Homo sapiens: one gene and its partners. The protein of the gene in region 7 purifies or fractionates together with the protein of the main gene of each other region. This does not show direct contact. Each region holds a gene or a part of one and is shown on either strand. Other genes may lie near its edges.

Evidence for each region.
Region 1: the proteins of ITGA9 (region 7) and SPRR2D purify together in Homo sapiens (affinity purification with mass spectrometry; one large-scale study listed by BioGRID and IntAct). This does not show direct contact.
Region 2: the proteins of ITGA9 (region 7) and PCYOX1L purify together in Homo sapiens (affinity purification with mass spectrometry, with the first as the bait; one large-scale study listed by BioGRID). This does not show direct contact.
Region 3: the proteins of ITGA9 (region 7) and NGFR purify together in Homo sapiens (affinity purification with western blotting; one study listed by BioGRID). This does not show direct contact.
Region 4: the proteins of ITGA9 (region 7) and SPRR1B purify together in Homo sapiens (affinity purification with mass spectrometry; 2 studies listed by BioGRID and IntAct, with this or other methods). This does not show direct contact.
Region 5: the proteins of ITGA9 (region 7) and SMOC1 purify together in Homo sapiens (affinity purification with mass spectrometry, with the first as the bait; one large-scale study listed by BioGRID). This does not show direct contact.
Region 6: the proteins of ITGA9 (region 7) and ALDH1A3 purify together in Homo sapiens (affinity purification with mass spectrometry; 2 studies listed by BioGRID and IntAct, with this or other methods). This does not show direct contact.

The regions. Positions count from the first base shown.
Region 1 is NC_000001.11:153,038,725-153,042,818, forward strand, and holds SPRR2D (small proline-rich protein 2D), read right to left. Parts: upstream 2,397-4,094; 5' UTR 2,354-2,396; exon of another isoform or gene 2,348-2,353; intron 1,642-2,347; 5' UTR 1,623-1,641; coding exon 1,404-1,622; 3' UTR 1,008-1,403; downstream 1-1,007. UniProt on the Homo sapiens protein: Cross-linked envelope protein of keratinocytes. It is a keratinocyte protein that first appears in the cell cytosol, but ultimately becomes cross-linked to membrane proteins by transglutaminase.
Region 2 is NC_000005.10:149,356,392-149,361,244, forward strand, and holds the start of PCYOX1L (prenylcysteine oxidase 1-like isoform 1 precursor), read left to right. Parts: upstream 1-1,654; 5' UTR 1,655-1,677; coding exon 1,678-1,765; coding exon of another isoform or gene 1,766-1,781; intron 1,782-4,853. UniProt on the Homo sapiens protein: Likely to have oxidoreductase activity. Required in the mevalonate pathway to regulate prenylation and enhances the bactericidal activity of neutrophils.
Region 3 is NC_000017.11:49,501,793-49,505,292, reverse strand, and holds part of NGFR (tumor necrosis factor receptor superfamily member 16 precursor), read right to left. Parts: intron 3,231-3,500; coding exon 3,089-3,230; intron 1-3,088. UniProt on the Homo sapiens protein: Low affinity receptor which can bind to NGF, BDNF, NTF3, and NTF4. Forms a heterodimeric receptor with SORCS2 that binds the precursor forms of NGF, BDNF and NTF3 with high affinity, and has much lower affinity for mature NGF and BDNF.
Region 4 is NC_000001.11:153,029,497-153,033,686, forward strand, and holds SPRR1B (cornifin-B), read left to right. Parts: upstream 1-1,706; 5' UTR 1,707-1,751; intron 1,752-2,830; 5' UTR 2,831-2,849; coding exon 2,850-3,119; 3' UTR 3,120-3,404; downstream 3,405-4,190. UniProt on the Homo sapiens protein: Cross-linked envelope protein of keratinocytes. It is a keratinocyte protein that first appears in the cell cytosol, but ultimately becomes cross-linked to membrane proteins by transglutaminase.
Region 5 is NC_000014.9:69,881,638-69,885,915, forward strand, and holds part of SMOC1 (SPARC-related modular calcium-binding protein 1 isoform 1 precursor), read left to right. Parts: intron 1-3,644; exon of another isoform or gene 3,645-4,278. UniProt on the Homo sapiens protein: Plays essential roles in both eye and limb development. Probable regulator of osteoblast differentiation.
Region 6 is NC_000015.10:100,878,215-100,883,009, reverse strand, and holds the start of ALDH1A3 (retinaldehyde dehydrogenase 3), read right to left. Parts: upstream 3,180-4,795; 5' UTR 3,103-3,179; coding exon 3,004-3,102; intron 1-3,003. Other genes in the region: collagen alpha-1(I) chain-like, read left to right, coding at 3,207-3,989. UniProt on the Homo sapiens protein: Catalyzes the NAD-dependent oxidation of aldehyde substrates, such as all-trans-retinal and all-trans-13,14-dihydroretinal, to their corresponding carboxylic acids, all-trans-retinoate and all-trans-13,14-dihydroretinoate, respectively.
Region 7 is NC_000003.12:37,458,392-37,462,669, forward strand, and holds part of ITGA9 (integrin alpha-9 precursor), read left to right. Parts: intron 1-4,278. UniProt on the Homo sapiens protein: Integrin alpha-9/beta-1 (ITGA9:ITGB1) is a receptor for VCAM1, cytotactin and osteopontin. It recognizes the sequence A-E-I-D-G-I-E-L in cytotactin. ITGA9:ITGB1 may play a crucial role in SVEP1/polydom-mediated myoblast cell adhesion.

The DNA of each region.
Region 1 (4,094 bases), on a different chromosome or scaffold from region 7:
TTTAACATAATGTTCTGTAGGTTCATCCATGTTGTCACAAATAAGATTTTATTCTTTTCATTGCTGAATAGTGTTCTACTGTGTATATAAACCATATTTTCCTTATCCATTCATCTGTTACTGAACACTTAGGTGGATTCCATTTCTTGGCTATTGTGCAAAGTGCTGTGATAAACAGGGGAGTGCAAATATCTTTTTGATATACTAATTTCGTCTCTTTTGGGTATACACCCTGTAGTGGGTTTGCAAGATCATATATTACTTCTATTTCTAACTTTTGAGGAAACTTCATACTGGTTTCCGCAATGGCTGTACAGGTGGTATTAGGTTTTCTGTTTCTGATTTTGTTGGCTTAGCATAATGGCCTCCAGTTTGATCCACTTTGCTACAAAAGACATGATCTAATTTTTTTATAGCTGTGTAGAATTCATGGCGTATATTTATCACATTTTTAAAATCCACTCTACTATTGATGGGCTTTTGGGTTGATTCTATGCCTTTGCTATAGTGAACACGGCTGCGATAAATATACACATGCATGTGTCTTTATGGTAGAATGATTTATATTCCTTTGGGTATATACCCAATAGTGAGACTGCTGGGTCAAATAATAGTTCTGTTTTAATGATGATGTACTGCTGCTAATAGACTACTATCAAATGAGTAGTAATGATATGTCAGAAATTGTGTCAACTGAATTCCTGATATTAATTCCATTTTATGCCTAAGATAAGTTAGTGATATAAATATTATTTTCCACATTTTAAAATGAAGAGATTAAAATTCTGATTGATTTGTTCTTCAAATCAATCAAACACTAATTAAGGAAAATAAAAGGGGTTTAAAATGATATAAAAATAATCATTGTTATGGCCCAAAATTCAGATAACAATAATTGTGAAATCCTGGTCCTGGGGATCAGAGAAAGGTAGAACAAAATCCAAATAATCATATAATATTACTAATAAAGCAGATTCTAAAAGAAACAAAAGATCCATTCACAAATATATATGCATAGATACTTTATTCAGGGAGTGAAAGATAAATGACAATTGCAAAGGTGGTAGAAGCTCATGACCAGGTGACAGACAGACACAGAACACATCAACAGAATTGTCTGATGGTTCCCAGGGAGAGAGCTGCTGCTCTTTCTTCCGAAGCTCTGGGAGCTGGCACAGCTGAGGACTTCCTTTTCTTAGCTCCACCTGGACAGTGGCAGTATGGCAGCCTCAGAAAGGGAATCTTTTGCTGTCACAGATCATCACAGGCAGGCCACAGGTTAAGGAGAAAGAAGCTCCCTGTGCATCCATGGAAGGCTTTGGTGAGAAGATGCAAGTGGAGCTGTGGAACGAGGTGAGCCAATTATCCTTATCCTCTCATGCTCCTGATGAATCCTGAAGCTGTTACTTGCTCTTGGGTGGACACTTTGGCTGGCAGGGTGGGGAAGGTGTCACAGGAGGATATTTCTGCTGGCACTGCTGAGGTGGGCAGGGCTGTGGACACTTTGGTGATGGGCAGGGCTCAGGGCACTTCGGGGGTGGACATGGCTCTGGGCACTTTGGCGTGGGGCACACAGGAGGTGGCTGGCAGGGCTGCTTGCACTGCTGCTGTTGATAAGACATCCTGCTGGAGTCTCAGGATCTGAAAGAAATGATACAACAGTGTTTGTGGGAAGGGACTCCTCCAGAGAGAGAAGCTAATGCTTATGTAATACCATGAAATATTATTTCCCCATCTCCAAGAAATTATTTAAACTCTTAACTGCCTTTTCAAGACTACTTCGTTTCTCCCTTCCACTTTAGCAAATTGCTTCATTGGCCCTGGGAAATCTTGTGTTTTCTCATACAATTTTTCCAAAGAAAATATCTCTGTAGTAATGAACCAAGCATGTTATTTCTGTGAAAATAACATCTTTAGGAAAGGCAGTGACAAGTTCAGATACCATGAGCAATCTCACAAGCCATTTCTCTTATCATTATCTGTAGTAAAGTCCCAGTGGGTTGACTTGAGCACAGAACAAAGGGCTGTTTGGGAAGGATTGCAGGCTCTTGGCACCTGTTAAGACACAAACCTTTGAAAAAGACACCAGGAAAACATGGGGAAAAAATACTTTGTTCTTTTTTCTTCTTCAATTCAAAGCTTTCCTATTAACTTCTCTGTCCGTATGGACACCTAACTGTATACAAGAAACAAGCTAAAATAGCATATCACTGTACTCTAAATCTAAATTTCCATCTACTAAGTAGAATCAAACCCATGGTTACAGAATTGTATCAACCAAACTTGCTGTTTTCAGATTAAATTCAATATTTCAGGTCACAAAGAACTGAGGAACTCAAGGACTCACACTCACCAGGTTCTCCAAAGCAGATCGGTGCTAGAGTACCAGGAGTTTAAGAGTTGTGCAGCAGGGAACCTCTTTATAGGACGTTCTGCCCCACCCAGTGGGAAGTGGAACTGCCTAAAACTGGGCTGGTCCAGCAATGTCCAAAGTAAAATGCAAATGTATCCATATCTGGCATGAGAGGCATTCTCAAACTAGGAAATATCCTGTTCTGGGATCTCCCCACTGGGTTAAGTGCTCATGAGTCACAGAGAACCTGCCTTAGATCTCAGTTTCAGTGACTTTCGTCAGAGAGATAATTGGAGGGATTCTCTAACCGGTTGTCAAGGGCTCTCTTTCTTGATTGGGAACAATGATCCCTTCCTATCTTACCTCCCCTGAGTCATAAAACTTCCTGTCCTGATCCACTCTAGCTGAATGCCATATTGTTGTACATGAACCCAACTCTACCTCTACTTTCCTCATACAGTTGGCCAATGTGCTAGAAGGAAGGAGAGACTTAACAAAGGCCTGAGCTAAGCTTTTTCTTTGCTAAGTTCCATGACAACAGGCATGTCACCTCTCCTCCCTGGGATTATAAACAGGGGACAATAATACTTACCTCTGGGTTTGCAGGCTGACCACATTGTGCTATCTGCTGACCCTGTTCAAGACTGAAATTTTCTTTGCCACCTTTTTCTCAGATAAAACCTCAGATTTTTACCTATATTCCTTTCCTCTTTGAAGCTGTCTTCTGCACCACATTTGTAGCTTCTGCACCACATTCGTAGAGGCACTTGCATCCCAGGACAGATTTGAGAGTGAGATCTAGTCTCCACAGCACGTTTGCTACTTGGTGCCATCAAGGATGTGTACTACAGCCTTTTTATTTATAAAAAGTAATGGAGAGAAGGAAACTAAAGTTACAAGTATTGACTCAAAATCTATGTATGGAACCATGCATATATGGTTCCCTGTGAACATCCTATAGAGAACAAGCTGCATAGACATTATCATATGTAAATAATTAGAAGTAGGTGTGCAGAGTGAGGAAGGTAAGAGCACTTAAAGTTTAACTCAAGGGGAAAATACAAACAAAGGGTAATCCAATATGTATTCTTCCTCTCTATTTCCAAACAGGTTTTAGATGTTTCTCAGTGTTTTTTAATTTGTTTGCATGTTCTTCCTTTGTCTTTTCCATAAACCTTCTAGTCCCACAAACTGCTAGATTATCAACTCATACCCAATGTATACCTGTCATCTGTCCATTTTGGTACATATTGTTCACTTAACACATATGTTGTCAATGCATTTAGTGATTGTCCTTTCACAACTTTTTTAAATGCTTCCTACAATCAGTGAGCCTTTCTAAGTACTGTATATTAAACATTTAAAGTGATGTTGCTACTGCTTCCTTATCTGGACCATTAATCGGGAAGCTTCCCAAGAACATGGTTTTATAAGTGAATAAGAAGAAAGGAGAATGAGGAAGAGGAAAGACTCAAAATCACTGGAGCAGTCACCAACTGTGCTCCAGGAAGGGCAGAGTGTTGAATCAAGCCAGCATCACATCCCTCAGTTAAGTAGGTTAGGTTCCCAGAACAGCTGTTGCTCCTGTCAGTAAGGAAGAGCTTTTAGCCAAGATCACCACTGGCCAGGACACTACAGAAATAGAGCCATCATGTCAGCACCCTGAGGCCAGGTGATTACAAATGGTGTTCTCACCAAATGCTTCCTATAGACTATTACACATGCCACGCACTTCACCAGC
Region 2 (4,853 bases), on a different chromosome or scaffold from region 7:
TTGCATCCTGACACAAACATTGCCAAAAAAAAAAGTTTAAGATTATGACAAATGCATGATTATTCATCTACCAGTTTACTAGTAGTAATCCAGTTTGGCCCAAGTAAATTAAGTCTCAGTGCTGAGTTAGAACCCCAGCTATAAGCTCTTTCACCATTCTCTGAATCACTTCAGTTTTTTGTTTTTGTTTTTGTTTGAGTCAGAGTCTCGCTCTGTCACCCACGGTGGAGTGCAGTGGTACAATCTCGGCTCACTGCAACATGTGCCTCCCAGGTTCAAGCGATTCTCCTGCCCCAGCCTCCCGAGTAGCTGGGATTACAGGCGCACACCACCAAGCCCAGCTAATTTTTGCATTTTAGCAGAGATGAGGTTTCACCATGATGGCCGAGCTGGTCTCGAACTCCTGACCTCAAGTGATCTGCCCACCTCGGCCTCCCAAACTGCTGGGATTACAGGCATGAGCCACTGTGCCCGGCCCAGTTTCTTATTTTAGCCATAATCTCACTGAGTAAATATGGATTTCATTTATTTTTATATATTTATTTATTTTTAAAGACAGGGACTCTTGTCACTCAGGCTGGAGTGCAGTGGCACAATCATAGAACACTGTAACCTCAAACTACCGGTCTCAAGCCTCCCACCTCTGCCTCCTGAATAGCTAGGACTACAGGTGTGCACCACCACTCCTGGCGAATTTTTTTTTTTTAAGAGACGGGGTCTCAGAGTCTCATTATGTTGCCCAGGCTGGTCTCAAACTGCTGGCCTAAGCGATCCTCCCGCCTGACCTTCCAAAATGCTGGGATTACAGGCTTGAGCCACCCCCAGCCTCCGGATTTTCTTTATTCTGAAACTCATCCCTAACTTTATTTTCTGCCAGAGGAAGTCTGTTTTTCACAGCGTGATAAACTAGCAAGTCTGAGCTGCTGCTCTTGTCTTCTTAGAGGATGAAAATGGGAGTTTATCCCTCCTTTTCTCCTTTCTGAAAAGAGAGTAGATGAAACCTTCCCCCGCCTTTTGGTTTTTAGGAAGCAGAAAGCAGAGATATTAACTATATAAAAACTGCAAACACATAAATAACAGCAGTATAGAAAGCATAGGGCTTGTGTCAGCATATGAATGAGGTAGCGTCTTACCACCCTGGCCGCATGCTTGGTCAGCAATTTCCAGCACTTGCAGACACTGCAAAAGGCTTCCCTTATCTCATAAGATGGTTACAACCACCTAGAAAGGTGGAGCAGGATTCTTCGTCTGTGTTATAATAGAGGAAACAGACACAGAGAAGATACAGAGCTAATAACGCAGAGGCTGGACATAACCGAGGTCTTCAAAGCTTCACTTTGGTCTGTTTCATCCCTCTGCCGCAGCTGGGCCCTGGTCCTGATGCTGAGGACCCGAAGCGGGCACACCTGCGCCGGGCAAGAATGAACCCAGCCAATGAGGAGCCCGCATGCGGGGGGCGGGGCGGAACGGGGAAGCTGCCAATGAGAGAGCCTACCCCGAGAGAGATGGAGCTAATGAGGGCCTCGTGCTGGAGAGGGACGGCGGCTTGGCCAATGCGGAGCTGGGTCTGGCGCGGCAGGAAGGCGGGACTGCCAGTGGGGCGCCGGGGCGGGGCGGAGAGCCGAGCGCCAACCCGCTAGCGCCTGAATCCGGCGTGCTGCCCGCTCGCCGCCCGCCATGGCCCGCGCAGCCCCGCTGCTCGCCGCGTTGACCGCGCTCCTCGCCGCCGCCGCTGCTGGCGGAGATGCCCCGCCGGGCAAAATCGGTGCGGGAAGGACGCGGTGGGGTTCCCAGCTGGGGAGGGCCGGCGGGTAAAGGGTTCTCAGTTCTCAGCTAGGTGGGGTATAGGAGGGCGGCTGGGTGAGGGAGGGGTCCTCGGAAAAGGAGCTGGGTGGAGGAGAGGCGCCGAAGGGGACGCGGCAGGGAAGGTCCTGATGGGGCCGGGGCATGGCATGTGAAGAGGGCCACCTAGGACGGAAAAGAGGCCTGGGCAGGACTGGCCGCGGATCTCACCGGGAGGTCCAGGGTCGCTGAGCATCTGCCATGGTCCTGGCTGTTGGCTAGGCGCCCGGGTGACAGAGGACAGAGAGGCTGGGCGATGGCATTCACAGAGGTTGGTTGAGGGCTCTCTGTGTAGCAGACGTGGTGCTGTAGTTCCTGCTGGGGTAGAGCCCTCACAGTACAGGGAAGTCCGTGCTGAGCTGAGGAAGTACGGTGCATGCAGAGGAGGGGCGCTTCACCCTGTCTTTGCGGCCCTGGGAGGGCTTCCTGGAAGTAACATCTAAGCCAAACCACCCCCAGGTCGATAGGAGACAGTCCTGGCAGAGACAGAACACTAGGTCCGCTGGAGATTTGCTGACAGAACGGGGAACTTTTAACAACAGTCTTTTTGTTTATTGTGTGTGTGGTTTCCCCAATACTTTATTTTGAAAATGTTCAGATGTACAGCAAGAATTTTATAGTGGTCATCTGTATACCCACCACCTACATTCTGCCATTAACTGCTGCTATACTTGCTGTGTCACATAACTATCACGCACTGTTCTAGACATCCACGAATCCAGCCTACATTTTGATGCATCTCCAAATAAATTGCAGACATCAGGACACCTCACTAAATACGTCATCGTGCATATCATTGACTAGAGTGTCATATGTGTTTACAGTTGCTTTTTTTTTTCCTCCCTCAACAACTGTCATTTTAACTACATGACTCGTGAAGATTTTCAAGTCCCTCACACGTGATATTCCCACAGGCAGAGATCCTGGGCTTCGGGGTGGGAGGACAAAGACTCTATTCCGCTAGGCCACTCTCCATGCACCCCAGTTGGCAGGAGTGCCTGGAACATCTGATAGAAGCATCACAAACTTACAGGGTCCAGTGCAGTGCTAAAGCTTCTTGTGTAGCAGAACCACAGCCCAGGCCATACAGGGTTAAGAAGACTGAAGCATGCCAGAAACCAGTTTGAGACTGAGAGTTTAGTGCTTGCCAAGAAAAGAGAATCCTGAGGCTAGAGTAGCCAGAGAAGCCCTCATGGAGAAGGTGGAGTTTGAGCCAGGCATTGAAGGATGTGGAAGAGTTAGGCAGGCAGTATCCATGAGTGACCATGTGTTCTCTCTCTGTCCTTAGATCGTTTGAATACAGTGTGGCTAGGAGTAAGCAGAGTGTGCTGTGGGAATATGCAGGGCACTCCCCGTTTTCTTAGGAACAGGCAACAGGACAGGACATTTCTCACCATTGGGGAAGGAGCAGGACCTCCACCCAGCAGAATTGCTGCATTGTGGCAACATGGAGCTCTCTGCCTCCTTCCTCCCAGCTGGCCCTTCTGGCCCCATCCAAGAGTCATCCAGAGCAGGACACTTGGCAATGCCTCACTGCCCTTCAGCTTTCTAGATTTTCCTCAGCCCTCTGACGGGAGCCTCTGTTCATCCTTGGTGGTTTGGACTCTACCCACAACAAGAATGCGGATTCCTGTTAGGATGGCTTAATGCTTGTGCTTCTGCAGGACCAAATCTGAGAACCCCCAAGTGGCATCAGGACCCTCTAAACCCACCCATATAGTTCCATATGCTGCCCTTCTCATGCTGGTCTCTTTGCAGAGTGTGCGTGTCCTCTCACTGACAAAGCTGATTGTCCTCCAGCATCTTGCATGAAATCTTATTTCCCCAAGAAGGCTGTGTCCCCACACCCTCTGGGGCAGAATTCACTGCTTCCCCTTCAGGACTCCCTGGAACCCTGTTGCACTTCATCATGGGTTGTCGTTGCTAATTGCGCAGGAGTCTGTCTGCCCATTCCATGCTGGGGTCCTGGGGGACAGAAGCCTGTTTGATTTTTCTTTGTGCCCCAGGACATCTTACTGTAAATTAGAGAATTGGTGTCAGTTGTGTTAAATGAGCTGGTTCACAATGAAGTGGTGTCTTCTGCTTCCTGATCTTGGGCAGCTTCTAGGCCTTAATATCAATTTCTCTGGAAAAATGGGTAATTTGGGACTCTTTGCACATGGAGGGGATGGGAGCACACTGGTTAAAATAAAATCCAAAGCTGTCTTGGAAGTGGCTTTGTAAGTACTGTGAGAGGAAGTGGTTTATTCTTTCAACACAGAAAAAATACTTCATGAACTCTACTGTCCACCAGGATCTGGGGACATAGTGATCATGCACTCTCTCTCTGTCCTTAAATAACTTGACTACAGTACGGCTAAGCAGAGTGTGCTGTGGGAATATGCAGGAGGAACACCTGACTCACCTCAGGTGGGTCAGTCAAGCCAAGTTATAGGTGACATCTGAGGGCTGTTGAAGCCAGTGAGACACAGGGTGATGGCACTCCTATCAAAGGGAACAGCTCGGACAAAGGCCCAGGCATGAGAGAACAAAGCTATGTGCCCACAATAAGAGAAGCCTAGACAGACAAGAAGGTGGCATCTTGGGAGGGTAAAGCAGGAAATGGAATAAGTAAGCAGAGGCCAGATCATAGAGAACCTGGTGCTGTCTGAGGATTGCCTGTGACTTCTGGCAGGAACTGGTACTCTGTGGGTCCAAATGGGTCCAGTAAGGACAAATTACACCAGATTTATTTAATTTTCTTTTGGGGTAAGGCCTCTGGACTGTCTGATGAGAAGAGAGTGGTGTTTCAGATACATGGTGAGCAAAAATTATAGGTAGGGTGGTAGTCCAGTTCAGTAGCTTCATAGCTGGTTTATAGTTCTCTCACAGGACTGTTTAATGATTAGTGTCAGGTGAGGCACAGTGGCTAATGCCTGTAATTCCAGCACTTGGGGAGGCCAAGGCAGGAGGATCACTTGAGCTCAGGAGTTCAAGACCAGCCTGGGCAACATGGTGAAACCTCATCTCTA
Region 3 (3,500 bases), on a different chromosome or scaffold from region 7:
AACCAGGGAAGGACAGATTGTTCAGAATGTGGAAGCAGAAGCAGAAAGGCTAAAGCGCCATTAGGGGGAAACTGAGGCCTGTAGGGGGGTCTCAACATTATTCAAAGGCATCAGAGACAAGATGGAGCAAGGGGTCACTGGCTTCGGGGGTGTGGTGGGGGGATGAGGAGGCAAAGAAGGAAAAGCCAGAGAGAAGTGAAAGGGGCAGAACTGGGGACAAAGGCTGGGCGTGGTGGCTCACTCCTGTAATCCCAGCACTTTGGGAGGCCAAGGCGAGCAGATCACTTGAGGCCAGGAGTTCAAGACCAGCCTGGCCAACATGGCAAAACCCCATCTCTATAAAAAATACAAAAATTAGCTGGGTGTAGTGGTGCACGTCTGTAATCCCAGCTACTCGGGAAGCTGAGGTGGGAGGATTGCTTGAGCATGGGAGGCAGAGGTTACAGTGAGCCAAGACTGCACCAGTGCACTCCAGCCTGGGTGACAGAGTGAGACGCTGTCAAAAAAAAAAAAAAAAAAAAAAGAAAGAAAGAAAGAAAAAGGGTAGAGGAGAGAAGAAAAGACCCAGGAAGAAGGGCCTGGAGGGAGACTTCAGTTTCAAGTGAATTCTGACAGAGGAACCCTGTGTCCCTTTTCCTAGGAGCAGGCAGATCTGGATTCAAAATCCATTTCCATCGCTTATAAGCTGTGTGACTTTGGGTGTTTTACTTAACCTCTCTGAGCTTTTTCTTTCTCTGTAAAAATAAGGAGCAATATCTGCAGTCACAGGGTTGTAGTGAGGAATAAATGAAATTCAGCCATAAAGCTTTGGCACGTAGTTGGGATCCTATAAAGATTGGGCCCCATGGGGGTGGAGAGCGATGAGGACATTGAACTTTGGAGGTAGGAATATGGTCAGACAGCAGAAAGAACGTCCAAACACAAACAGCAAAGGCAGGATGTCTGAGCTATACAAACAAGAGGGTCCTGGCTGGCTGGCGTGTGATGGAGGGTAAGTCTAGTCACACAGGAGGGGAAGAGGAGAAGCCTGCTCATGGCAAAACACAGAAAATTAGCAGAAAACTCCTGGGAGAGGGTTTTAGGTGGTGTGAAAAATGTGGTCTTTTTTGGCAGAGAATGAAGGCAGGGGCTTAATAGGTTTCCTTGTGGAAACGTTTTAAGGGTAGAGGGAAAGTCCGCTGGGGTCTCCGTCCCATAAAGTGGGCTTGTAAAGGCAGCCTGTTAATGCAGCTGGAGGTGGAGGAGGGGGAGACAGGGAAGGAGGGGAAAATGGAGGGGAGGGAGGAAGTGGAAGGGAGGATTCTCAAAGCCACCTCTCTGCCTGCCTCCCTTCCCTTCCAGAGATTCTGGAACTTCCCTCTCCTGGTGTCCTCCGCCCCACCTCCTGCTGAAGGTCCTTTGACTGAAGGGAAAGGGTTCCCATCATTTAGGTCCTGGGAGGAGAGTCCTGGGCTGGAGTCTAGGAAGCAAGAGAGGCAGATTTGGAGGTTCTGGGATAGCTGATGGTTGGCCACCCCCGCCCTGGAATGGAAACCCTGTTAGGCCAGGGCCAGAGCAGGTGGCCATGAAGCAAGACGGCAAAGGCATTGGAGGATGTCCCACCTCCACACATACGCCCAGGCATTTCTTGGCTGGGGAATGGTGTTACAGGATCCACAAGCACAGAGATGGGAAAACAGTGTGTCTGGGGAACACCAAGAGTTGGGGTTGCCTGGAGGACAGATAGACTCAGGGGGGACATCCAGAGGTAACACTAGGTCCGCAGGTGGGTTCAGAGGCCCCAGCTCTATCCCCTTATTCCCAGCCGGATTAAAGAATAATCTGAGTATGGTTCCCTCGAGCCCTCCAGGTGGGCATCGAGTGCCAGGTAGAAGGCAGGGAGTCAGGAAAAGGGCAGGGAGCCCACGGCCCAAAGGCAGCAACTGAGGACTGGGGGCACCGATCAGGGACCGAGACTCCTGACTCAAAAGCATGAGGGAATTCAGACCCTGGACAAGACTGGGGCCAAGGGGCCCAGACCCACCAGCCCAGGAAGATGAGATTCTCTCCCCTCCTGAAAGAAATCCCAGGCAGGGTCGAGCACGGTGGCTCACGCCTCTAATCCCAACACTTTGGGAGGCTAAGGCAGGTGGATCACTTGAGGCCAGAAGTTTGAGACCAGCCTGGTCCACATGGTAAAACCCCATCTCTACTACAAATACAAGAATTAGCCAGGCATGGTGGCATGCATGCACCCGTAGTCCCAGCTACTCAGGAGGCTGAGGCATGAGAATCACTTGAAACCAGGAGGTGGAGGTTGCAGTGAGTTGAGATCATGCCATTGCACTCCCAACCTGGGCAACAGAGCAAAACTCTGTTGAAGGAAGGAAGGAAGGAAGGAAAGGAAAGAAAGGAAAGAAAGGTAAAGAAAGAGAGAGAGAGAAAGGAAGGAAGGAAGGAAGGAAGGAAGGAAGGAAGGAAGGAAGGAAGGAAGGAAGAAATCCCAGGCAGGAATGGGCACAGCTCCCCGTCTCCCCTCCCCTCTGTCACCCCACAGTAAGGACGTCTTCATGGCGCTCTGACCCCCATCCCTGCTGCCTCGGGAAAACTCTGCTTCCTGGTCAAAGCTGGAGAAGAGTTGGCCTGTAGGGAGGAACAGCCACACCCCCAGGATCCCCCAAGGTCAGCCTTCAGGGCAGCCAGGATTTGATCCTCCTCTCCCTTCCCCCAAACACACCGGGGATAAGTGGCAGCCATTGATTTTGCAGTGCAGATGATATTTTTAGCTGGTCTTAGCATCAGCTACTCCTCCCTGCCCAGCCACACTCTTCTACCAAGCCTCTGCCTTCTCCAGAGCTGGGAATGGGCACCCCTTGGAGATCCCCCATGGGGTTCCCCTCCTCCCTCTGCACACTTCCCTTCTCCATTCTCAGCTTCTCGAATCTGGGAGAAGCGCCTCCTACACTGGGTCAGACCCACTTCTGATGACCTTACAGTGGTGGTCTTATAAGGCCTCTACTGGGCATGCTTCTCCCCAGCGCCCCTCCCTTTCACCCCTCTCCTCCCTCCCATTCTTCTCCCCTCCTCCTGCCCGCCACCCTCTACTCACTGTCCAGGCAGGGCTCACACACGGTCTGGTTGGCTCCACAAGGCTGGGCCACACCCTCGCCCAGGTTGCAGGCTTTGCAGCACTCACCGCTGTGTGTGTACAGGCCTGTGGGGCATGCCTCCTTGGCACCTCCAAGGGACACCTGGATGGAGGGAGATCGGAGGGTCAGACTGGCAAGAGAAAGCTGGGGTGGGTTGGGGGGGGTTCTTCCGGGGAATCAAACACCCTCCTCCCACTGCCTTCTATTAGAACCACCTGGGCTGGGATGAGCTCACCAGGGAGGCGTTAGGAACATCAAAGCTGACAGGGGAAAGGCAAGTGAGGGACAGTGTGCCCGTGCAGGCTGCTGGGGGTGTGAGGTCAGAGCTTCAGCTGCTGACCTTCTGCAAAGTTCATCCTGGGGTTACAGCAA
Region 4 (4,190 bases), on a different chromosome or scaffold from region 7:
GGTGACTACTTAAACAAGGAGAGAGAGAAATAGATAAGTGGATGTATTCATCCATTTTCATGCTGCTGACAAAGACATAACAGGGACTGGGCAATTTACAACAGAAGAGGTTTAATGGACTTACAGTTCCACATGGCTGGAGAGGCCTCACAATCATGGCAGAAGGCAAGGAGAAGCACATCACATCTTATATGGATGGCAGTAGGCAAACAGAGAGCTTGTACAGGAGAACTCCTCCTTTTCCAAAACCATCAGATACCTTGAGACGTATTCACTATCATGAGAACAGCACTGGAAAGACCTTCCCCCATGATTCAATTACTTCCCACCGGGTCCCTCCCACAACACGTGGGAATTCAAACTGAGAGTTGGGTGGGGCAACAGCCAAATCATAATGGATAAAATGACAGAAATATCTGTCTCTTGCTAAGCTCTTACAGCTTTTCTCAGCTTATACCATGAGGCCTGCCACAAGGAAGGATTTCCCCTATAAAAAAATTTCCTGATAATTCTCAAAACAGCCTCTGGCGTCTCTTCACGAATAACATCATCCACCCATCTCTCCATCCTTCCATTCATTCAGTTATTCTATAATTGTCAATTCTCTGAGCAGCTACTACACACCAGGCATCACGTGAAGATGGAAGGTAGAACAATGGCTAAGCAGAGGAACTTCTGGTGGTAGCTGGCTGGTCCTGGGCTCAAGTTCATGAGAGGTGACACAGCTGTGCAGCCAGCAGTTGCTCTACAAACATTTAGATGAGTGAAAATAATGAGGGAGGGACCATCCGACACCTGGATTTGAAGGATAGTTTGGATTTTCCAAAAACCACACTTGCAACAGGTTGTGTACTGCAGGTAGACCTGGATTAGTGACCTAAGTTTCATCTTATCTTGAGGAGAGTGAACTTTGATATAAGGGCTCAGGGAATCCCAGCTCCTTTGTTCCTTCCCATGTTGGCTGCAGAGAAGGGATTCCCCATGATAGCCAGGGTCTTCAGGGCCTACTGTCACAATGTACAGAATAAATGGATGGACTAAAAGGGCCAGGTTGCTCCAGAGCTTCCGAACGTGACCATTCTTCCCAGAGTTTCACTGCTCCGAACTCTCCTTCACAGACTGAGGTCAGCCTGCCCCTATGTTGTTTACCCTGAGTTCCTCCTTGGAGAAAAGGCTTTTTAGAACCGAAATAATCATTTTAGTTTTTCCTTTCCCCTGCCAGGCACGAGTATACTGAGTGATGGATTAACAGAATATTACTATTTTTCACCTAGCCACCATGCCCTTGGCCTCCCAGAATAACCAGAAATACCTATTGTTTATCTCTACATCCACTTCATATATTAAACAGCCCTACAAGTGTCACCTGTGCTGAGGATTAGACTCTTCCAGAAGATAGGACAGTTTCTGGTTCCAGCAGCCCCAGAATGTCTTCCTTCTCTCTCTTTCAGCCCACACCACCCTTCCTGTAAACACTACACCTGGGAGCAAAGGGTGTTCAGGGGGATAAAGCCCAGGTGACATCCTTGTCAGACAGCAAGTGCCACAAGTTTCATCACAAAAGTTGAGTCAACAGGTGGGTGAGGGAAGAGGGGTGAATCACATCTGACAGGTAAGGAATGTAGGCACAGCAGCCCAGATGGATCCTGTTTCCTTGAGGCAGGGCTTGTTCCATGCATAAAAAGCCAGTTGGCTGGGAACACTACACCAGTTCTAAGGGACCATACAGAGTATTCCTCTCTTCACACCAGGTGAGTCTCTTTACTTGGAACTCTTTAGCATCCATTCTAGGTATTTAATTTTTATTAGAGTCTCCTTGGCATTCTTGGTATTTTTTTCCCTCATTATTGAATTTGATCATAGCCATGCAGACTGTTCAACTGAATTATAACCTCTAGGAATATCTTCATTTTAAAAGTGTTCATACTGTAGGCTTGAAGAGAATTTAGACATTATCAGTTCTTCATTCACTCTTTCTGTGTCAGCAAGAAGGGGGTTGGTTTATTCAAGGATCCATAGTAAGTTTGTAATGGGATAATGACTAGAACCCAGGTCCACAGCACTTACCCTGGCATTATAATTCCTTCTTATTTATAATTTTAATACAGAGAATTTTATTCTTTCAACAGATACTTTTGTGAGAGCTTACTATATTTGGCAATTTGTTTGCAAAGAAATAATTTAAGCATCTATGATACTACAATTTAATCAGGAAATAAGAGCTAAAATGCATTGTATAACAGTAACTTATCAGTGCCAGGTGATTAGGGCAAGTTCTGTGACAGTTTGGGAATAGAGAGATTTCTGGAAGGTTTTTTCTAGAGAAGCCACTAAAAGTCCCATATGAAGCGATCTGTGGAGTTTGGTTAGTGCTTGAATGAGTAGGAACAAGGAAAACATTTAAGACAGAGGAGAACTTGAGCCAGGCCACAGGTGGGATTGCTTGGGGTTCTAGAGAGGTCAGAGTTATACAATAGATGATAAGCCATGCTATTTATCAGAAATGAGTGAGTAGATTTAATTTGTTAGGGTTTTTTTTTTCCAAAGAACCTCACATTTCCAATGGTCCAGTATTATGAGTCTCATATTCCTGCTAGAAGCCTGTTATTGTGCTGTGTAGGAAGAAAGAGAGCACCAGGAGAGGCCCTGCTCCAGTGGAGCAAGAGCAAATCATCTTTAGGTTCCTCTTCTTCAAAGGCTCAGAAATTAAATTAAGTATTCTTTGTGGTCAAGAAGGGGAAAGAACATAGCTTTTTAAGAGACCAGAAGTGGTATTCACCATGGCTTCTTCCCTATTATTCTCTGCTTAAATCATCTGTTCTGTGTCCAGGACCAGTCACTGTTGCAGCATGAGTTCCCAGCAGCAGAAGCAGCCTTGCACCCCACCCCCTCAGCTTCAGCAGCAGCAGGTGAAACAGCCTTGCCAGCCTCCACCTCAGGAACCATGCATCCCCAAAACCAAGGAGCCCTGCCACCCCAAGGTGCCTGAGCCCTGCCACCCCAAAGTGCCCGAGCCCTGCCAGCCCAAGGTTCCAGAGCCATGCCACCCCAAGGTGCCTGAGCCCTGCCCTTCAATAGTCACTCCAGCACCAGCCCAGCAGAAGACCAAGCAGAAGTAATGTGGTCCACAGCCATGCCCTTGAGGAGCCGGCCACCAGATGCTGAATCCCCTATCCCATTCTGCGTATGAGTCCCATTTGCCTTGCAATTAGCATTCTGTCTCCCCCAAAAAAGAATGTGCTATGAAGCTTTCTTTCCTACACACTCTGAGTCTCTGAATGAAGCTGAAGGTCTTAGTACCAGAGCTAGTTTTCAGCTGCTCAGAATTCATCTGAAGAGAGACTTAAGATGAAAGCAAATGATTCAGCTCCCTTATACCCCCATTAAATTCACTTTCAATTCCACTCTTGACTGTGTGTCATTGACTCTACAACTTCATTCCTTTCCCTCGTGAAGCGGGAGCTGTACACAGAGATGAGTTGGTGAAGAAGGGCTTTGTCCAGAAGGCATCTGATGCTCACATTAGGAGGGTGAAGGGCTGCCCCCACAAGCATTCCTGGGCTGCCTATGGGAGGTTGTGTAATGCCACCTAGAGGCTGTTGCTTTGGGCATCCAGGGCTGGAAAAGGGCTCTCCTCTTGCAACTCAGTGAGTCATGCTAGAGTTTAGTTAGCACTTGTCTAAGCTGACTCTGACTCACTAATCCTGATTGCCTTCTCTCCAAATCTGGCTTTTAGACTGCTAACTTACCAGCCAATTCCTGTTTATTTCAAGTAATGTTGTTCCTACATATGCTAACCTGCTCCTTCTCACTCATTTCTCTGATATCTACAACCTAGATTTCCAAACACCTCCAAAGATGCACAGACTCCGTTCTTTATCTCAGTTAGTCATTTCTAGTTTCTGAGTGCCAACTCTGGACCTGAAACAGAACAAAGGGGATTTAAGGTGCTTGCCAGGGGCATTTACAGTGCCCTGGAGGGATATACTTCACTCCCTACCCCACCCCTCATTCAAACACACATACACACATATACAACCACACACACAAGATCTGGAGTCCTCACAGAGTAATGCACAAAAGCTGATCCAGTTTGGAGACTGTTTCTTTCACATAGGTGGGAACCATGGAAGTGAGAACTGTAAAACCCACCCTCACCCCTCTCCCTGTAGTATCAACATGTTTCAAGT
Region 5 (4,278 bases), on a different chromosome or scaffold from region 7:
TCCCTCTTTCTCTCTCTCACTCAAATACATACATGCACAAACACACACACACATGTGCACACACATCTTGGTGTGTTTAGAAAGTACCAAGGAGAAGGTGCTGTCTCGAGCATGTGGTTACCTGGTTGTGTTTATAGATAACAATAAGAGCTACCACTTATGAACATCTGGGCTGGGCACTTTACATGATCTCTTACTCGAACGAGAACAAGAAGTTGGGTCTTTTAAAAGCCATTTTACAGATGACAAAGTGAGACTCAGGGTGGCCAATCGACTTGCCTGAGCTTCCAGTTTATATGGATTGAAAAGTTGTGTGCTCTCCCCACCACCAGGCAGCTATAGTGAGTGTTCATCCGAGTGATGCTGTTTCTGTTAAAGAAAGAGATGGCTCGATGAGAAATACAGAACCCGGATACATCAGGGGAGTCTGCAGAGAAATTGTTAATATTTTTTTGGTGTCTGTATCACTTAAGGCAAATGACTGAATTTCAACCTATCCCCAAAGACTCCAGTTCTTTTCTATGGCTTATTGGGGGCCTCAAAAGTGTAGCTCTGGTTGTTGAGAGCGGCGTCATCCGAGGAGCAGAAACATCTGGCTTGTTGCATTATTCCCTGTGGGCGCTCCTAAGTCTCTTCTGTTAATCTTTTGAGTGACAGAGGCTTAAGGATTGGCATCTTTTCCAGCTGGCTTTCTAGGAAACCAAGAGCATGCCCTTTCAGTTTAACTTTATCTGGCTCACTAATTGAGCTCCCCCGAGGCCTAGACCCCAGTCCTCGCCCCCTTATTTGCTTCCTGCCTTCCTTCATAAAATTCTTGACATTTGTTTGACTCTGGAAACCAGCGGCTATCGAGTATCAGATTGGAGGCTATTATGTAGGAAGCACCTGATTTTGGGGTCTCTCAACTGTGAGTGGTTGCTTGGCTAGCTGGGACGTTGGTCAGGATTCTTTTAATCACTGAGGAGGCAGCCGTTTCTTTAATCCTGCACAATTTACTGAAAATGTTTCAGGGGAGGATGGGATGGGGGAGGGGCTCTCCCTGGCTGATGGTGTCTGGCCGATGGTCAAGCCAACTGCCTGTCTTTGTTAAATTCTGTGTCTCCCTTGAAGATGGAAAGCTGGGTGAAGGCAGGAACTGTTTCTGTCTTGTCCAGGGATTTATCTCCAGAGCTCAGCAAGGGGCCAGACACCTGTCAAGATTTACTTTGTTGGTACTGATGGAATGAACAAATAAATGCAGATAATGTGTGTTTGAGAGTGATTACAGGTTCCACTTTGACTGGAGGCAGGAACTAGATTTAAGAAGTGTGAGAAATAGGAGATGATGCGAAGATCAAGAGGTCTGAGTCAGAAATGGATTTTTATTTTTTAAATTTGACAGATAGCATTGTATGTATTTATTGTGCACAATATGATGTTTTGAAGTATATATACATTATGAAATAGTTAAATCTAGCTAATTAATGATAGCATTACCTCGCATAATTATTATTTTTGTGGTGAGAGCACTTAACATCCACTCTTTGCATTTTTCAAGGATACAATAACTTGTCATTAACTATAGTCACTTTGAATAGATCTCTTGAATTTATTACTCCTCTCTAACTATAATTATGTACCCTTTGACCAACCTCTCTCCTTTCCCTCTCCCCTCTTCCTTCCTCAGCCTCTGGTAACCACTGTTCTACTTTCTACTTCTATGAGACCAATTTTTTTAGATTCCACATATGAGTGAGATTATGCAGTATCTGTCCTTCTGTGGCTGGCTTACTTTTCTTAACGTCCTCCAGGTTCATCTACATTGTTGCAAATGACAGGACTTCATTCTTTTCTGTGGCTGAATAGTATTCCTTGTGTATATATACCATATTTTCTCTATCCATTCATCCACTGATAGACAATTAGGTTGATTTCATATCCTGGCTATTGTGAACAATGCTGCAATAAACATGGGAGAACAGGTATTTCTTCAACATACTGATTTCATTTCCTTTGGATAAATGTCCAGCAGTGAGATTGCTGGATCATATGCTAGTTCTGCTTTAAATTTTTTGAGGAATGTTTTTACTGTTTCTCATGATGGCTGTACTAATTTATGTTCCCACCAACAGTATGTGAGAACTCCCTTTTCTCCATATCCTTACCAGCACTTGTTGTTTTTTGTCTTTTTGATAATAGCCATTCTAACTGGAGTGAGGTGGTATCTCATTGTGGTTTGAATGCATTTCCCTGATGATTAGTGATGTTGAGCATTTTTTTTTTTTTTTTTTTTTTTTTTTTGAGACGGAGTCTCGCTCTGTCGCCCAGGCCGGACTGCGGACTGCAGTGGCGCAATCTTGGCTCACTGCAAGCTCCGCTTCCCGGGTTCACGCCATTCTCCTGCCTCAGCCTCCCGAGTAGCTGGGACTACAGGCGCCCGCCACCGCGCCCGGCTAATTTTTTGTATTTTTAGTAGAGACGGGGTTTCACCTTGTTAGCCAGGATGGTCTCGATCTCCCGACCTCATGATCCACCCGCCTCGGCCTCCCAAAGTGTTGGGACTACAGGCGTGAGCCACCGCGCCCGGCCGAGCATTTTTAAATATACCTATTGCCCATTTCTATGTCTTCTTTTGAGAAATACCTATTCAGATCTTTTGCCCATTTTTTCATTGCATTGTTTTTTGTTTTTTTTGCTATTAAGTGATTTGAGTTCTCTGTGTACTTTGCATATTAACTCCTTATCAGATATACAGTTTGTGAATATGTTCTCCCATTCTCTAGGTTATCTCTTTACTTGGTTAATTGTTTTCCTTGGTGTGTAGAAGCTTTTTAGTTTGGTATAATTTCATTTGTCTATTTTTGCTTTTGTTGCTTGTGCTTTTGAGGTCCCCAAACCAAAGTCATGGAGCTTTCCCCCTATGTTTTCTTTTAATAGTGTCATAGTTTTGGATCTTACATTTAAGTCTTTAATTCATTTGAGTCAATTTTTGTATATGGTGAGAGATGAGGGTCTAATTTCATTCTTCTGCATGTGGATATCCAGTTTTCCTAACACCATTTATTGAAGATTTTCCTTTCCCCATTGTGTGTTCTTGGTACCTTTGTTGAAATCAGTTGTCTGTAAATGCGTGGATTTATTTTTGGGCTCTGTCTTCTGTTCCATTGGTCTATGTGTCTGTTTTTATGCCATTACCATGCTGTCTTGGTTCTATAGCTTTGTAGTTTATTTTGAAGTCATATAGTGTGATGCCTCTGGCTTTGTTCTTGTTACTTTTTACTTTGCTTTGGCTATTCAGGGTCTTTTGTGGTTCTACAAAAATTTTAGGGTTTTTTTTTCTATTTCTATGAAGAACATCTTAGTATTTTTATAGGGATTGCACTGAATCTGTAGATTGCTTTGGGAAGTATAGACATTTTCACAACATTTGCTCTTCCAATTCATGAACGTGACATCTCTTTCCATTCATTTGTGTATTCTTCAACCTGAAACTTATTTCTTAAATGTTTTAGATATTTGTTATTTCTTCTCTCACCTCTTGATCACTTGATTCATCCTTCAAAACCCAGTTCCAACATTACTCTCTAGGAACTTTTCTACAGAGCATTCTTTTTGCTTAGGAACGATTACTCTCTCCTTCGAACAACTTCTTTTTTTTTTTTTTTAAGGAAAATTTGTATTATTTTAATTATTTTTATGTACAGAAAACTCAACAGTGTACATTTAACCCAGTTTAGTGGCAAGTTCTTTAGCCTTTGCCTTTTTGCGCTTGGCGATACGAGCCACAGACTTAGGACCCAGGACATTGCCACCCCAGTGACGGCGGATCTCATCGTATCTGTCATTGTAATTGGTCCTGATAGCTTCCACCAGCTTAGCCAAAGCGCCTTTGTCTTCTGAGTTCACCTGTGTGAAGGCGACAGTGGTGCAGGTCTTCCTGTGGACTAGACGTCCCAGTCTTGCCTTCCCCTTGATAATGCAGTAAGGGACCCCCATTTTACGACATAGGGCAGGCAAGAAGACAACCAGCTCGATGGGATCCATGTCGTGTGAAATCACCACCAGCTGAGCTTTCTTGTTCTCCACCAAGGTGGTGACAGTGTTAACTCCTGCTCGAAGGACAGGTGGTCTCTTCTTCGGGACGTCCCCTTTGCCAGCAGCTTTCTTCTCGGCCCGGGCCAACAGTCTCTGCTTCTTCTCTTGCTTTGTCTCTGGCCTGTACTTGTGGGCCAGCTTAAGCAGCTGAGTAGCTGTTTGGCGGTCCAGGGCCTGGGTGAACTGGTTAATCGCAGGAGGCAC
Region 6 (4,795 bases), on a different chromosome or scaffold from region 7:
AACCTTAAAAAAAAATCAGACTGTTTGACTCTAACCATATTTTCCCATCACTATGTTTTTAATTTTGTAAAATCTTTTACTTTATACCACACTACAGTAGTAAGTAATCTTGTAAGTGGTTTCTACTGTTGATTTTTCTCTCCATTAAAACAAAACAAAAGCACAAATATAAGGAAAGGGTATATAAATATGGTCTACTGATTATGCTGGCTGTATTGTTTTGAACTCCAAATCAGGGTAAAGGGTCTAGAAGGAATTGTTGTCTTTGATTTGTGGATTAGCATACAACAAACCTTATAGAGGTATAGCATTAAGCTACATTGAGCTGTAGACCTGGTTCACATTTTACAAAAGGAACAGAATGACATGGAAGCAGGACGGAGCTGTAAGGTGTCTCAGGCAGAGGTGAAGATGACAGTCATACAAGTGAATCCTATTGATGCCGATTTCCCGTAACTTCCATCTGACAACAGGCCACTCAGCTAAACTCAAAAAGAATATGTTTTCAGAAAAGGAGATTTGGGGGAATTTTATTTTTCATAAGAGAGATAATAAAAACCGGTGTTTTAAAAATCAGAAAACTTTGAAGAGAATCCCTGCTACTGGAAGAAATTTTATAAGGAAAGAAAGAGGCCCTCTAAATTAGAAGGGACTTCTATCCTCTGAGATCTGTGTGGGGACCCTGGAGGGGCTCTCAGCTCTCCAGAATCACACAGCATGACCCTAGAGAATGAAATGTTAACATGTGAGGACAAATGAAGGGGCTTTGACAAAGTCATCCTGAAAGTTGGACCACCCTGGGAAATGGCACTGCCGGGGCTAGGGCTCAGATGGACCAACTCTGGTGTGTGCCCCATTATCGAGAAGCACCATGAGTCAATTTTGGAAAATAGCAGACCACTGCTGGCTCCCATGCTCCACCGTCTGCTCTCCTGCCAGGCCACCCACCTGCCGGGCCACTCGCCCACTCTGGGCCTCAGTCCTGCACTTCAGTTTATCCCGCTCCTTCCCTCGGCAGGCACTCTTGGTGGCCTCACTCTCGGCCGCCTCTCCAGTCCAGTCTCCCTGAGGACTGTGCCAGGGCACTGGTTGGCCACCCTCAGCCACACAAGCTGCCTGGGTCCACAACTGCTATGGGGAGGTCTCTGCAGAGATGGGCCAGGAGCCAGGACAGAGCAGGCAGCAGCACAGTCCCCCAACGGGTGAGGAGCCAGCAGCCGGTGTCAGGCAGTTGGGGCCTTTATCGCCTGGGAGACCACTCAAGATCCCAGCACTCCAGGCCGATCCACCAGCTTCCCTCAGCCTCATTCCTGCACTGGTTCCCTTTAACTGGCAAAGGTTGCGCACCCACCAAGACAACAGGCAACCATTGCTCTGTGAATTGTCTAAGGTCTCCATAAGGGCTACATCTACACTTTAAAAGTGTCCTAAAAATCATAGAGAAAGAGGTAAACTTTTTGTATGTGGTCAGATTGCTGATAGGACTCAAAAACATAAAAAGTAAAAGGACCATAATACATTTACTGTCTGGTTTCTATATACAGTATTTTGAAATCCTGTACAACCAAAAGAAAACAAACAACCTCCCCACTTAACCATCAGTAGCAGCAGCCAAGCACCTGGGGTTAGGGTCTTACAAAATTCGGGTACCATTTTCACTCTTCCCAGAATTCGTGTTGGAATTTTCACTCTGAAGCTGATATTACAAATAAAACTACATTAAGAATAATTTCCAGCGTTTAGTTTACAGCGACGTGTCTTTGTTGATTACAGAGCCTTCTGAAAACAGTTAATTTAAATGTCTTGTGATCAGAGGCTCAGCCGACATTGGGAATTAAGTGCCAAGAGACCCAAATCTGAAGGCCACACATAGTGCCCTGCAACTTTCTCCGCTTGATTAAAATTCTTTGAGAAAGATAATTGCTACTTCTTAAAGTAAAACGGATGAGGAAATTCTCTAAGTGCGGTGTCAGCTGGAGTTGGGGGCTATGGGTAAAAGCAAAAATCAAGAGAAGCCAAAGGTGGGGAAAGTTAAGGCAATGGCTCTCGGCCTGGCCTGTGCCTCTAAAGTGCCCCAGCACCGGCCCACGACAGACGCGCACGCCAGACAGCCTGGGGGTGTCCTCCATCGGGTCGCGCTCCCGGACCCGGGTCTCTCGGCCCTCCTCAGCCCCAGCTCAGAGGCCTCGGAGGCCTCACCATCTTCTTTTATTCCTTTCTGCCCCGGGCAGGTAATCTCGCCGTTCTGCCAACGCTGTAGCCTCCCAGCCCACAGAGCGAGGAGGCAGAGAACCGTGCGCTTCTGCGGCCTCGCGACCCACCGCTTCCCAAAGGCCCAGGTCTGCGACCTTCCGGAGCGCGCGCCTTGTGTGTAAACACCGGGACCTCTGGGCTCCGGGGAGGTTTCGTCAGTAAGCGAGCACCTTCCTACTCCTCCTCGTTCTGCTGCTGAGCCGGGTATAAACTAAGCACGGAAGGCGCCCGCTGCGCTTTGCTCGGAGGACCCGCTTCCCCAGTCTTCCAACTGCAGCTCCGCCATCTGCCTCCCGGACTCTCTCTTGGCGCTCTCGGACCCTCCGACCCTCTCAAAGCCAGACTCGTCCACCCTGGAAATCATCGCAGGGGTTTTTGGGGAGGGAGCTCCCCAAAACCAGCGCGCTCCGAGTCAACGCGGCGCGCACCTCCACTCGCGATCAAAGCGGGCAGCGCAGGGACACGTCGGGGCCTCGCAGGGATGCGGGCGGCCCGGCCCCGCGCGGGCGCTGGACGGCCTCGGTTTCCCGGCTTCGAGGCTCACAGCGCCGAGCCCCGCCGCCTGCGATCCCGCCCGAGACGTCCCGCGAAAGGTGCGGTTTCTGGAGAGCCGCGCCCGGGCAGGGAGGCTCGGGTCTCGGCGGCGCCCGGCGGACCCCCGGCCCGCTGCTCCCTCGCCCCCGCCGCCCCGAGTCTGGCTGCCCAGCGCAGGGGCCCGCGGCCGTCGGGTGGGAGGGGCGCCCGCCTCACCTTGGTGAACTTGACCTCCAGGTTGCGGATGGGGCGCGGCAGGGCCGGCGGCTTCCTGTCCGGCTGCCCGTTTTCCACGGCCCCGTTAGCGGTGGCCATGGCTCCTCCGCGCTCCCTGGCCCGAGGCGCCCTAGTCTGCGGCGCACCGGCTCGGCCCGGACACTGCGCAGCCCGCTCCCGGGGTGGCAGCTCCCCGCCGCTTTATGCAGCGCCCCACGCCTCCCGCCCGAGGGGGCCGCCTAATTGGCTGCGGGACCGGAGGAAGGGAGGGCGGGCTGCGGGAGGGAGGAGAGGGGAGGGCGGCCGGCCCGCCTCACCCCGCCCCGCCCGCCGCCCCTGCGGGAGCCCGAGCGCCGGCGGCTCCACCCGCGTGCCGCGGACCGTCCCGGCGCCCGCGCCGCGCGCTCTCTCGCCCCGGAGGCTGCCTGTGGACGAGCTCCCCGAGGAGCCGCCGGGCCCCGGAAGTCGCAGGGCTGGGACACCCGACCCGGCAGGGAGCTGAGCCGCGGGGCCACGGCGCCCCGCTGCCTCCCCGAAGTCGGGCGGGCTCCCCGCGCGGCACATGCAGCCCACTCCCAGCCGCCGCACGGCGCGCTCGCCCGACTTCGGCCGGCTCGCGGCGCTCGGGAATGCGCGCTCTCCGCCGGGCCCTGCGCCGCGCCCGGGTCGGGGCTCCTGGCGGGGCCGCCCCGCGTCGCTGCGCACGTGCCCTGCTCTTGGGTCCAGCCGCCCGATCCCCGCTAGCAGGACAGACGCCCGCTGCGCCCCACCCTGCCCGAGCGCGGACAGCCGGCGGGCGCACCCCGGCCCAGCCGGCCTGGAGTCTCCCCGGGGCCCTGGGGCTTCGCCCGCGGTGGGGCAGAAGGCGAAAGCAAAGCGCCGGACCCGGGCGGCTCTCCGCCGAGGAGCCCTGGCGCCGCTGGGCCTCTGACCTTCGCAGGCGCACACCGCCTTCCATCCCAGAGCCCGGGGGGCAATTGATCTGATTTTTTAAATGCATAAATTATACCTCGATTAAAAAATGATAATTAAAAAAAAGCACATGAGACCTTTGCTGCTAATCGTTTTAAGAGTTTAAATTCTTGTCGCGCATTACTTCCCAGGAGGGGGAGGTAAGTCTAGCTCCTCTCCTTTTGCGATTTGGGAAACGCTCCATCAACTCCCAGGACTTGACCCAGGCCCCATCTGAGACACGGAAGCGGCTTCTGATGCATGCCATTCCTCAGGTCGCTGGAACAAAGACCGGAGGCACGGACTCCTGACAAAAGCTGTGCTTTAATCCTCAGATAGGCTCAGCCCCTTCAGTTCATCTCTTTCTGTAGGTAACCCCAAGTAATCAACAATGGGGAGGGGTCTCCTTATTTTCCTGTTTTGAGGCCTCCGTGTCCATCTCTCTGTCCCCTGGTGTCCTTCTGGATAGAGCTGGATAGAGGGGTAAGTTTTGAAGCTTTTGGAAACCCCACATCTGACCCTTACCCTGGGGTTGTGGAAAGGTCTTGTGCTGTTATGGCCTGGAGTGCACAGCTGAGGCCGGGGAAAGGGGATAATGGACCCTCGAGCGGGGCAGCCTTGACCGATATCGGCTGGCTAACACTGGCGAGTCTGAGCAATGCCAGCTCTTTCCTCAGCTGCTTCTGCAAATCCGGGGCTCCCTGCCCTCTTGGCTGGCCCCATGGCTCCCACTCAGATCTCCTGAAAACATCTGGGCAGATGTGCTATGCCACGGCCCCCGGCTGGGTGCTGAGCCCTAGCGTTTGGGTGCCTGAGCCCAAGAGGACCGTCAGGGAGTAGT
Region 7 (4,278 bases):
GGATGGGACAGAGAGAGCCTCTGACTCTATGCAGATCTGATTAAAGTCTCAGTCAACTCAACAGAGATCACTGGGCAGAAATAGCTGTCCTCTGCCAGGGTCAGGTATTGGCTGGAGCTGTCTGGGAAGAGCACAGCCTCAGCTGGAATCCTGCAGCAGATCCCAAGAAAGCTGCAGCTGGAGGCTGTCAGCTGACATTCCGCCTTGCAGCTGAACAGCATGAAGTGACCCACACCTCTGTGGCTGCCCTGGAGCCTGCCACGCGTGAATCACTGTGTTGGGAGGGTGTGAGATGTGCTCCTTGGCCTGCAGTGTGGCTGGGGATCATCTTTGCTCATACCTCTGTAATCAGTGTGTGGAGCGTCAGGACTGACAGTAGGGCCATTGGGACTGGCCCAGAAACAGAATCCTGAGCAATCTTGCCACCAGCTGACTCACAAGGTGCCTCTTTCTGATGTCAGAGAAGTCACAGGTGATGGATTTCAGAAGAAAGGAGCTCTGCTTTACGCTGAGCCACCGAGTTCTCTGAACTGCAAATCCTTTTAGCCAAGTGGATTTGGCGATCAACCAAAGCAGAATAAAATGTTTTATCCCAACCTTCCTTTTTGCCAGAAGGAGTCCTAGGAAGCCGATGTAAGTCCAAGATTGGGAAAAATCTACAGTCTTTGAAACCACGGGCTCACTTGGTCCACCAATGTCTGTTCTGACCAAAAAGGACTTCTGTGTTGAGTTTAAATTAGCAACAGTAGCAACAATAACACCAAAAGCAGCAACAGTGTATCTGAATATTCAGTAGATGTCAAGTGCTATCTACATTGGTACTCATACCAGCTCATTTAATGTTCCCAACAGTCCTTTCAGCTGGTAGCCATTTGGGCTGCCATAACAAACTGTTATAGGTTGGGTTGCTTATAAATGACAGAATTTATTTCTCACAGATCTAGAGCCTTGGAAGTCCAAGATCAGGGCCCCAGCAGATTTGCTGTCTGGTAAGCACCTGTTTCTTGGTTCATAGATAGTGGTGTTCTCACTCTAAGCTCACACAGTGAAAGGGATGAGGGAGCTCTCTGGGGCCACATTTATAAGGGCACTAACTCATTCATAGGTTATATCCTCATGACCTAATCACCTCCCAAAGTCCCCACCTCCAAATAACATTACCTTGGGGTGAAGATTTCAACATATACATTTTGAGGGAACACAAGCATTCAGTCTGTAGCAGCTGGCTATCATTTTATCCCCATTCATGGAGGGGAAGCTGAGGTACAGAGGCATTATTGCCCAAGTTACATGGCTAATGAGTTGTCGAGCACAGGCCTGTGCCTTTGCCCACCCAGGCTGACTGCCTGTCAGGAAGTCAAGAATCCGAGTTTGGGGGCTTCAGGGCGCTCAAACATCTGTCTTGTGAAGTTCTGTTCTGCCTGCTTTCCTGGAAAAGTTATTGAATTGCAATAGCAGTAGCTTCTCTGCGGCACCCTTTGGGGATGCTTATTCATGACCCACTGGCTACTCTTGGGGGGATGCTAGGGTTCTGTTTTCTGGAGATGTTTGATCACTGAGTGAACAGGGACCCAATGATTCTGCCAGGGACATTTGAAGGGCCTCTTCTCACACCAAGGCTGTCTAGCATTAAGACAGAAGTGTCCCAGGAAAGATGGAGTACTCTGCAATATTCCATGTATCCCTCTAACCTCCTGGGGCTGCTTTGTTACTATCCCCCCATCCACTCTGAGTTCTACTGGCTCCCACCACTTATTTAGGAATCTCTGAATTGGGGAAGGTAGCCATGGTGGCCAGTGTTTCAGAATCACTCCTGGGTTTGTAACTTTATTAAAGAAACCCACACAGAGTCAAACTTCTGCACCAGTGACCAACAATATGTGAGAGGATGATTTGTATCCTCAAATATTTGAACACTTAATAAAAGGCATGAATGGGTACAAAAAATTAGAAAGAATGAGTAAGAATGAGTAAGAACTAGTATTTGATAGCACAACAAAATGACAATAGTCAACAATAATTTGATTGTAGTTTAAAAATAACTAAAAGAGTATAATTGAATCACTTGTAACATAAAGGATAAACGCTTCAGGTGATGGATACCCCATTTACCCTGCTGTGGTTATTACATATTACATGCCTGTAACAAAATATCTCATGTACCTCATAAATATGTACCTACTGTGTGCCCAAATCTTTTTTTTTTTTTTTTTTTTGAGATGGAGTCTTGCTCTGTCACCCAGGCTGGAGTGCAGTGGTGCGATCTCGGCTCACTGCGAGCTCCACCTTCTGGGTTCACGCCATTCTCCTGCCTCAGCCTCCCGAGTAGCTGGGACTACAGGTGCCCCCCACCACACCCGGCTAATTTTTTGTATTTTTAGTAGAGAGTGGGTTTCACTGTGTTGGGCAGAATAGTCTCGATCTCCTGACCTCGTGATCTGCCCACTTTGGCCTCCCGAAGTGCTGGGATTACAGGCGTGAGCCACCGCACCCGGACTATGTGCCCAAATTTTTAAGAAAAATAAAAAATCACGGAACAAATTTCCTCCATCTTAGCTGATCTGTTGGTGTGTTAAGGCCACCTGGGAGATGGCCTTTCCTACCCCTTCCTATCTAGTGTCCAAGTGCTGTGATGTATGTGGATCCCAGAGTAAACTTGGTGTTGTGCAGTACACACCAGTAGGCAGCATTGCAGAGGGTCTTGGCACCTCTTTTGCACCAGGATGGGTCCTAGAGGGTGGATGTTCCAGATTCAGCTGAGTAGTGTTCCTGTCTCTACCTTCATTGAATCCCTGGTTCCACAGCAACAACCAGATCCACGATTTTTGTGCCATAAAAGGGGGCACTGCTGAGATGCACAAGTGCCTGGTGGCCAAGAGAGTGGGCTCCAGCATTAGCCCTGCCCTCAGCCTGCCTTACTCAGCTCTCTGCTTAGGAGCTGTGTGATCTTGACCAATTACTTCAGCTGTTTGAACCTCAGTTTCCTTTTCTGTAAAGAGTAATAAGGGTACATCCCTCATTAGGTTGGTGGGGGCATTAAATGAGATGATATCTGCAAAGCCCAGAGCACAACACGGCACACAGTAAGCCCTTGATAGATGCTCGTAGTTATTTCTCTTGTTACTTGATCTGATTTATGAAACCAATGGTCTTTTTCATCCTGACTTGAGATGCTGAGTTTTCTTTCAGTATTTTTGTTGATTCATTCATTTATTCATCAGACTTTGAGTGTTGACACTCAACACTGAAATGAATGAGATATTCTAACATAGACACACTCTTCATTATGTGTGGCCTCTAACATTTTTGTTATGCTCTACATAAATCTGCATTTTTGTGCATTCATTTACACCCTGTCTGCTTCCAAAAAGGATCTGAGATGGCTACTTTAAATGGAGATCTTTGGGATTGTAAATCCTAGAATTTTGCCTGCCTGTTTCTTCTCTGTGCTCTTGGAAAGCCAAGGAGCAGATGGGAGGCCACCCTTGTTATGGGGAGCTCCAGCTCCCACCCCAGGCTCCAGATAAGTCTGGGAGGTAGATCTACAGTTCCAGGATGGGATACTTTTTTAAAAAGTAAATGTAAATGTATTGCCATATTTCTCTTGAAAAAAAATTATCACAAGAAACCAACAAGAAGATATCAAGGCTTTTTCTTAGATCTGCCAGAAGTCTGTAATTTGCTCTATCCCTTGGATTTTAGTGTTCACTTGCTGCTTTCAGATGTGGAAGGAAAACCTCAGTCCTTTTGCCTTGCCTCCTTCTCCAGTTGCCTCCCCTCAGTGTGTCTGCCAAGACCTGAGCCCCAGGCCAGGGCAGCAGCCTCTGACCTTTCACTCCCTAACACACAAGCTGGGGACCAATGTCACTCCAAGGTTGGACCCTGCCCCCGTGCCTCTGCTTTTCCCAGTTGGGCATGGACTCCACCAATTTCATTCTCTGACTTAGCGTTATGTGGTGTGGATTGTACTGCTCTCCCTCCATTTACTGTAACCTAGGCTCTCCAGGATAAAAATTATTATTGCCAACCTTTTATGAATACTTTCTATATGCCAGAACCACTGTGTTCATAGTTCCCTTTATGCAGAGCAGGCTACCACTCCCGAAGCACAGAGAAGCCAAGTCACTTGTCCAAGGTTACCCAGCAAGTAAGTAAATTACAGAGTTGTGCTTTGAACCAAGGTGGGACTGATTTAATGCTAAACTGACTGTTCTCAGGGTTAGCCATGCTACCCTCCCTACCTCCACCTCCATCAAGGCCCTGTCCAAGGTATCAGGT